2 linked regions of the Homo sapiens genome follow. The gene in region 1 interacts genetically with each later gene. Each region holds a gene or a part of one and is shown on either strand. Other genes may lie near its edges.

What was found.
Region 2: changes in TRAPPC11 (region 1) and VPS45 together harm fitness less than expected from each alone (positive genetic interaction), as found in Homo sapiens cells (one large-scale study listed by BioGRID).

Annotation. Positions count from the first base shown.
Region 1 is NC_000004.12:183,661,470-183,667,014, reverse strand, and holds part of TRAPPC11 (trafficking protein particle complex subunit 11), read right to left. Parts: intron 3,169-5,545; 5' UTR 3,148-3,168; coding exon 2,944-3,147; intron 759-2,943; coding exon 589-758; intron 1-588. UniProt on the Homo sapiens protein: Involved in endoplasmic reticulum to Golgi apparatus trafficking at a very early stage.
Region 2 is NC_000001.11:150,139,754-150,143,302, reverse strand, and holds part of VPS45 (vacuolar protein sorting-associated protein 45), read right to left. Parts: intron 466-3,549; coding exon of another isoform or gene 372-465; intron 1-371. UniProt on the Homo sapiens protein: May play a role in vesicle-mediated protein trafficking from the Golgi stack through the trans-Golgi network.

The DNA of each region.
Region 1 (5,545 bases):
AATGTATTCATGACTTCACATAAAATACAACCTTGGTCATTCAACCGAAGATAAATTTCAACTAAAAAAACCAAGATCAGAAGAAATCTTTTCCTGCACACAAAGCACATATATGTCACAATGATTTAAATTCTAAAAGTATGATCTCACATCTTCTAATCTTAAAAATCTTCCTTAAAAGCAAAAGATTAATGTATACTTTTACGTAAAAGTTATAATGCAACTTACTTCTTTATGGTGATACACTGCAGAGTAGTCATCCAAAAGAATTAATTATTTGAAACTTAAACAGTGATAAAGCAAAGCGTTTTAAGAGACTAAACAGTAAATTACTATGTCTCCAAAAAAGATAATACAAGAAAAACATTTGGAAATTCAGACCAATTAGTCTTCTAAATTTCTTCACGTACCCAGCATTATATACAGTCAATAATTATGCTACCTGTGAGGAAGTGAACAAGATTCACTGGAGGTCAATCCGCAAAGTGACCACTGCAGTCTGAACGGTACTCCATTGCCTTCAAGGAATGTTAGTGAATAACACACATGTGCAAACTGACATAGCTGCCCTGACACAGAAGATCATACCTGACTATTTCCACTCTGGTGGCGCACTCAGACTGCTTTTCTTTCCACTGAGGCTCATCCCAGTCCAGTTCATAGAACACAACCACCAGGGCTGGCACCAGATTCAGATGCTTATTCATCCAGCCAGTCTTTAAGATCCCTTTAGGAATGTACCACTCATATGAAGTTCTCTGCAAACATTGGCAGAAATTGAAAAGTTACCTGACAGGAGCAGAAACCACCTGTTACTGAGTGCCAAGCACTTTATGTGCATTGATCTCATTCAATATACACACCTCCCATTTTTGATTAGGAAACTCAGGCTTACAGATTCAGTAAGAACTAGTAAGTGTTGAAGGTGGAATCTCAACCCTGGAGAAGCTATACTTCCCATTTAAAGAATGACTGAAGCCAAAGAGTTTCTATCAGCCCCATAACTGAATGCATAAAACGATGATGCATGTCTAATGATGTCAAGGGTCTCAAATACTTTGCTAAAGAAAAAAAAAAAAAAAAAAGTAGCCCATTTCCAGGTAAATTCTACTTATATTCTTCACCATTCCAGCTTCTGTTCTTGTAAAACTGCTCAAATAAAATATTATCTAAAATCCAATAGGCTTTGTTTATTTCAAAGACATATTGCTGTGATGCATTTCACCTCACTTGTAGATGAAGTACAAAGCAGAGAACAATTCTTAAACAGAAGCTTCACAGCAGCCACTTGAGTCTGGGCACTGAGTGCCACAGAGTGGGAAGAGGATGCTGTAGATTTGAGTGTTAGCCCTGAGGGATGCAGTTGAAACCTCACATTCCTTCCAAATCAGCTGTGCTGGCTCAGACTACTCCACTTCATGGTGATCCAATGTCTACCTCCAGCAAGGAAAGATGAGGTCAATAAGGAAGTCTGACACAAAATAACATGGGGACTCAGCCAAAAGCTGGGAATAGAGAAATGAAAAGCAGCTTGAATTCGAGCATTAAGAGAAAAGAGGGCTTGTGCTGGGCTCCCTGCCTTCTTGACACAAACATGACACTAAAGAAAAATAATCATGTAGGCCTGGCACGGTGGCTCACGCCTGTAATCCCAGCACTTTGGGAGGCCAAGGTGGGCAGATCACGAGGTCAGGAGATCGAGACCATCCTGGCTAACACGGTGAAACCCCGTCTCTACTAAAAATACAGAAAATTAGCTGGACGTGGTGGCGGGCGCCTGTAGTCCCAGCCACTCGGGAGGCTGAAGCAGGAGAATGGCACGAACCCAGGAGGCGGAGCTTGCAGTGAGCCGATATCGCGCCACAGCACTCCAGCCTCGGGGACAGAGCGAGACTCCGTCTCAAAAAAAAAAAAAAAAAAAAAGAAAGAAAAGAAAAATAATCGTGTGAGGGCCAGGGCTGGGATGCTATTACTTGCACAATTTCAGAGAGCTCAGTTTCCAGGGCTGAGTATATGAAATGTTGTCGTGTGGTTCTCAAACACACACAAAAATAATCAGCCGGTGACCAAGTCCTATATTCCCAGAAACCAAAGAGGAGGGCTGCAATCTACATTTTTAATAAATACCCCAGGTTATGATGACATACTTGGTCCAGAGACTACTATGTCAGAGACACTGCTCTAGGGCAAAAGAAAAAAAAAGGATAGGGGTCAGAACTAAAAGGGTTTTATCACCTAACTTTCAAACCAACCTCATAAGATTATGATAAATAACAAATCACTACACATAAACTGCTTAAAACAGTAAACTGTTTTACTGTTTTTTTACAACTATGTTAGCTATTAGTGATACTATCATCATGATAATAATTATTATCTAAGGTAAAGTCGTCTTTACTATGTCGTTCACCTTAAAAGTCAGTTTTGAACTTAATACCTTTCTTCATTCCGCAATGAATAAACTGTGTTAGTTTATGTAAAACTCCTCAAGAATAGGGAACCTGTCTCACTTAAATTCGTATCACTAGCTTGTTGCATGGTTCCAGGTACCTATCACAAAGCAAGTGCTCAAAAAATCTGTGAAATTGAGCCACATTGCACAGACCATGGGATTCAAAAACGACATTAGTAATGATGGTGGGGAATGCAAGACCTTCCTTTTAGAGGGGACTATGTTGGGTTTTTTCCTAAAAACAAAAAAGGGAAAACCTGGGCTCATAGGATAGAAAGCTTTATAAAGTAATTATTCCTCTGGAGTTTAAAAAAAAAGAACTATTATTAAATATACATGCAGTGTATTACATGAAAATGCCTAAGGCTTTCTTTATGCACCACTGTGACCACTGTCTTGATAAACTCCACACACACAACAGAACAAAAAAGACACACACACACACATAGAGAGAGAGAAGGAAAGAACACATGCCATCACAATGCCATTACCTTGGGTCTACATTTGGGATACTCATGGTCACCTGGGAGCACCTTGAAAGAAATTGGTACTCGATCAGCTCTCCGATTTGCACAGAAGGCGTCCCAGACAGCTCGATGGACTGCATTATAAACTACATCCAGGCCCGTTAGAGTAACAAAGGCCATAGGCCGGCAACATAATTCCACAGGGAAGTCCCACTGTGTGGGGCTCATGTTTACGATGTCACAAAAAACCTGAAATACAAATGTTAATACATTCATAATTAATTTTTAAAAACTCATATTCATTTCTCCAGCCTGGGCAACAAGAGCAAAACTCTGTCTCAAAAAAAAAAAAAAAAAAACAACTCATATTCATTTCCAATATATGAATCTCTATTTAAAAATCATTACAAAAAAATAATCATTACAAGGCCAGGCATGGTGGCTCACGCATACAATCCCAACACTTTGGGAGGCCGAAGCAGGTGGATCACTGGAGGCCAGGAGTTAAAGACCAGCCTAGCCAACACAGTGAAACCTTGTCTCTACTAAAAATACAAAAAATTGGTTGGTCGTGGTGACTCACGCCTGTAATCCCAGCACTTTGGGAGGCCTAGGTGGGCAGATCACGAGGTCAGGAGATCGAGACCATCCTGGCTAACACGGTGAAACCCTGTCTCTACTAAATATCCAAAAAATTAGCCGGGCGTGGTGGTGGGCGCCTGTAGTCCCAGCTACTCAGGAGGCTGAGGCAGGAGAATGGCGTGAACCCGGGAGGTGGAGGTTGCAGTGAGCCAAGATGGCGCCACTGCACTCTAGCCTGGATGACAGAGGGAGACTCTGTCTCAAAAACAAAAAACAAAAAATTAGCTGGACATGGTGGCACACACCTGTAACCCCAACTACTTGGAGGCTGAGGCAGGAGAATCACTTGAACCCAGGAGGCGGAGGCTCCAGTGAGCCAAGATCACGGCACTCCACTCCAATCTGGGTGACAGAGTGAGACTCTGTCTCAAAAAAAATAAAATAAATAAAATAATCATTACAAAAAGGCAAAAGGCTTTGAGTATCTGCAAACTGTCAAACAAACAGAAGAGAGAAAAAGGGAAAACTTTAATTCCTGAATTAGATCTATTAAAATGTAATAACTATATGACATTTAAGAAAAAATCTTTCATGTTAAAAATGAAGTCAACTTTAAGACAAATCGGCATTTTCAGTAATGTCTCAAAATGCACACAGAACTTTGAAATTAGTAGACCAAGAAAGCAAGAAGGTGATAAAATTAAAATAGATCTACATGATCTATTTCAACTATAAAAGAAAAATATATTGAAAGAAAAATATAAAAGAAAAACAGTTGACTTACATATAATAAACTTCCCCTAATTTCTCTGTAATTGCTAATATTGAATTTCTGAATACCTAGGATATTATTAAAATAGCCTTTAATTTATGTAATTATCTAAATAGTAGCTATGTTGTCTCATTTCCCACAATATAAAATTTACTCTTTAAAGAAAAATCTGTAAGGGAAAAACTAACAATGAATGGAAACCTCTCGGAGGATGTTTCCACTGCGTCCTTTAGCTAAGAATCAGTCCATAATAAATCTAACGTATGCCCTGACTTTATAAGTATATAAAACTATGTTTATCCCGAACAAGACTGTCATTATATTTTTAATATAATCTTACTTGCAAAAGGATGTAACAACATGAGGTTCTTTTTTTTTTTTTTTTTTGAGACGGAGTATCACTCTGTCACCAGGCTGGAGTGCACTGGCCCAATATCAGCTCACTACAACCTCCACCTCCCGGGTTCAAGTGATTCCCCTGCCTCAGCCTCCCTAGTAGCTGGGACTACAGGCATGCACCACCACACCCAGCTAATTTTTTGTATTTTAGTGGACAGGGTTTCACCATGTTGGCCAGGATGGTCTTGATCTCGTGACCTCAGGCGATTGCCAGCCTTGGCCTCCCAAATGAGGTTCTTTTAAAAGATAATCTATACCAGCATATTACAGAGAATTCAGGTAAGGCACAAGTGGCTCATGCCTATAATCCCAGCACTTTTGGAGGACAAGGCCAGAGGATTGTTGAGGCCAGGAGTTCAAGACTGGCCTGGGAAACATAGTGAGATCCTGTCTCTAAAAGAAATAAAAAAGAAAATAGCCGGGCATGGTGGTGCTCACTTGTAGTCCCAGCCACTTGGGAGGCTGAGATGGGAGGATCACTTGAGTCTAGGTGTTTAAAGTTACAGTGAACTATGATTGTGCCACTGCACTCCAGCCTGGGTGACAGAGCAAGATTGTGCCACAAAAAAAAAAAAAAAAAAAAAAGTTATTCCAAACAAAATTATCACTACATTTTAAATATAATCTTATTTGAAAAAGAATGTGTCATGAGGCTCTTTTAAAAGGTAATCTGGCCGGGCGCGGTGGCTCACGCCTGTAATCCCAGCACTTTGGGAGGCCGAGGCGGGCGGATCACAAGGTCAGGAGATCGAGACCATCCTGGCTAACATGGTGAAACCCCGTCTCTACTAAAAACACAAAAAATTAGCCGAGTATGGTGGTGGGCGCCTGTAGTCCCAGCTACTCGGGAGGCTGAGGCAGGAGAATGGCGTG
Region 2 (3,549 bases), on another chromosome or scaffold:
CTTATTCTTCAAGACTAAGGATTAAAAGTCACTTTTCTGGCCAGGCATGGTCTCATTCATACATACATACATAAATACATAATCATAAAAGTCACTTTTTCTGTAAAGCCCTTCCAGACCCCTCCATGCTGAACTAATTACTGTTATTACTTTATCCCACTCCTATCTTAGCACTGTATAATTGTTGCCAAGACAGACTGTGAGCTTCTTGGGAGGTAGGGGGAAGTCTTACTCACCTTAGATCTCCAGGGCTTAACACAGAGGTATCCAATAAAGTTATGCTGAGTAAATGAATAAAATAGCTACCCATTGGCAAGACAGCCTTCTTTATAATATAAAAGTTATTTGGATGGACGGGTGCAGTGGCTTACGCTGTAATCCCAGCACTTTGGGAGGCTGAGGCGGGTGGATCGCTTGAGCCCAGGAGTTCGAAACCAGGCAGGGGAACATAGTGAAACCCCATCTCTATAAAAAATACAAAAATTAGACAGGTGCCTGTAGTCCCAGCTACTTGGGAGGCTAAGGCAGAAGAATTGCTTGAGCCTGGAGGCAGAGGTTGCAGTGAGCCAAGATTGTGCCATTGCACTCCAACCTGGGCGACAGGAGTGAAACCCTGTCTCAACAACAACAACAGCAACAACAACAAGTTATTTGGATGCTCAGGACTCTCTCTCAGAGCAGACAGATATTTAAAAGACAGAGGACTGGAGGAATGACCAGTTATTACCATTGTTTTGCAGTTTTATTACCATCTTGCATTGAAAGATTCTGGGCTTGGAGAATTTAAATTCCAAACTCCTTTGCAAAAGAAAAAATTGCAAAGTAGAGGGAAAGGAGTAGAAGCTAAGTTCATTTGTTCCTCTATGGAAATACAGACATCTTTGGCCTGGCTTTTTGGCCAGTTGGACTAGACACAATTGGAGGTCAGAAAACAAGTGTTAGGAAATGAGGTAGCACTGATTTTTTTTTGAACAATAACACAATAAGTCTTGATGACTTCTAGAAAGAATGAAATAAATGTGCTGGGAAGCCCTATAGGAATTTTATCAGGGGATCTTTGGTTCATTTCCAACTCTGCTACAAAGGGAAGAAATAAAGATCCTCCTCTGTATATCAACAAGACCCCACATTCCTGACTATAATGAGAACACACTTACTATTTATATTTACCAGCCTAATTTTGTTTCCTAGGGCCACTATGACTTAAAAAAAAACTATTTGGGGACTCTAATGAGTCATTGCTCAGAATGCTTAAAAAATTATGGCGAATGAACATATTGCTAGCTGTACCCCAAATTTAGACTATGTTTAAAAACAAAACAAAAAGAATAATTTTTCTTTCTAAATTCATTTTAAATCAATCTCACTTAAAAGCAAACTCAAAAATCCCCTTCTCCGTTGGTGCCATAGTCCAGTTCAATTCAGTTCAATTCAATCCAATTCAACAAATGTTTAATGAGCATCCATTATGAACTAGGTGTTGAACTAGGTGTACAAATGTACACCTTAGTTATGATTCCTACCTTAAGGGACTCTCAGAGACAGATACACAATCACAATCCAATATGAGTATAAACAGAGGCAGTGCCAGAAACTAACAGAGTGGATTAATGCTACTGCTTTTTTTAGTTTGTGCTGTCATCAAGGGTGTTTTCCTGACTCCATGTATAGAAGGAAGGTGGGTGGAAAAAAGCAGAACCCCAACCCTGATTTTAAAAAGTCAACCTTGAGAAGTCTTGAGTCACACACTGAAAAGCAAGCTTCTCCACTTACATCACTGGTAAGGGACTAGAGACCAATGTTTATAGGATTAAAAATATTAATTACTAAAATAATTCAGCTGAACAACTGTGTTTCTATTCCTAAACAAAGCTATCATACTGTAACAAAAACTATGTGTGTGTATGTGTATATAATTTAAGGATATGTCTTCCTCCTTTTTCACTATACTCCACAGGTAAAAATTACATGTGAATTTCTTATACCAAAGACACCAAGGGGAATCTAGAACCTGAATAGTGTTATAATAATTAAAAAAATAGAACTTGTGGGGAGCAGAAAAATAGAAAAAGACTTTCAGGAAAATAATGAGAAAAACCCCAAGATATTTGTCTTAATGGAGTAATAAGCTCCTAATTACAGCCAAACACTTACTTGGAGAAGTTAGGAGTATGGGAGTGGGTAAGGCAGAAGGATAAGATGAAATTATTAATAGCTTAAAACACTGAAAATGCTCCTCACCTCTCAACTTCCACGGCTTGCAGTTTTCAGAGCCACTGCTATGTTTCATACTTCTTTGCTTTTGCACCTGCTATTCAAAGGCTGTCCCATCCATCTCACACTTTGTTTGGTGGAACTATGCATCTTTAAAAACCCAACTCTCACATTATTACTCCTCTAGGAAGCTTTCCTCAACTGCATTGCTTTCCCCTTAGAGTTACGTACTCATTCTTCCATATCTTGTAAATATACTGTGTTGTAATTTATTTGTCTGTATGTCCATTTTCCATGCAAGCTTATGAAGCTTTTAGGGGCACAAGGATACATGAGTACATTCTCTTTGTAAAAGTTCTAAACATATACCTTGTCTTCCTTGACCCTCCTTATCCTCATCACTCCAGAAATAACATAATTTGATCAACAAATATTTACTGAGTGTCTACTATGTGCTAGGCACTGTTCTAGAAGCTGTGAATACAGCAATGAAGAAAGTAAAAAAAAACCCCTCTGCTCTCATGGAATTTATATTCCAATGGGAGAGAAGGAAAATAAAATTAATTAGTAGTTAATAATAATAATACAATAATAATGGTGTACACATATTACTATATGCAAAGTACTGCTCTAATGGACAGAAACCATTCCACTTTAAATACACACACACACACACACACACACACACACACACACACACACCAGAAGTGATGGAATTGGGATATAATCCCAGGCAATCTGGCTTCAGTTTGTCTTCTTAACTATAATGCTATACTGCCTCTTTGTAATATGTTAGATGAAGAAATACTATGGGAAAAGATAAAGCAGGTTTAAAAAAGGAGTATTGGAGATGGTAGTGGTGTGAGATTTTAAAACTAGTGACTGGGCTGGGTGCGGTGGCTCACGCCTGTAATCCCAGCACTTTGGGAGGCCAAGGCGGGAGGATCACTTGAGGTCACTTGAGGTCACGAGTTTCAGATCAGCTTGACCAACATGGTGAAACCCTGTCTCTACTAAAAATACAAAAATTAGCCAGGCGTGGTGGTGCATGCCTGTAATCTCAGCTACTTGGGAGGCTGAGGCACAAGAATCGTTTGAACCTGGGAGGCGGAGGTTACAGTGAGCTGAGATTGCACCACAGCACTCCAGGCTGGGCACCAAAGCAAGACTCCATCTCAAAACAACAACAACAACAACAACAAAAATAAAATAAAACTAGTGACTGGCTGCCCATGGTGGCTCACGCCTATAATCCCAGAACTCTGGTAGGCCGAAACAGGAGGATATTTTTAATCCTATTGCTTGAGTCCAGGAGTTCAAGACCAGCCTGGACAA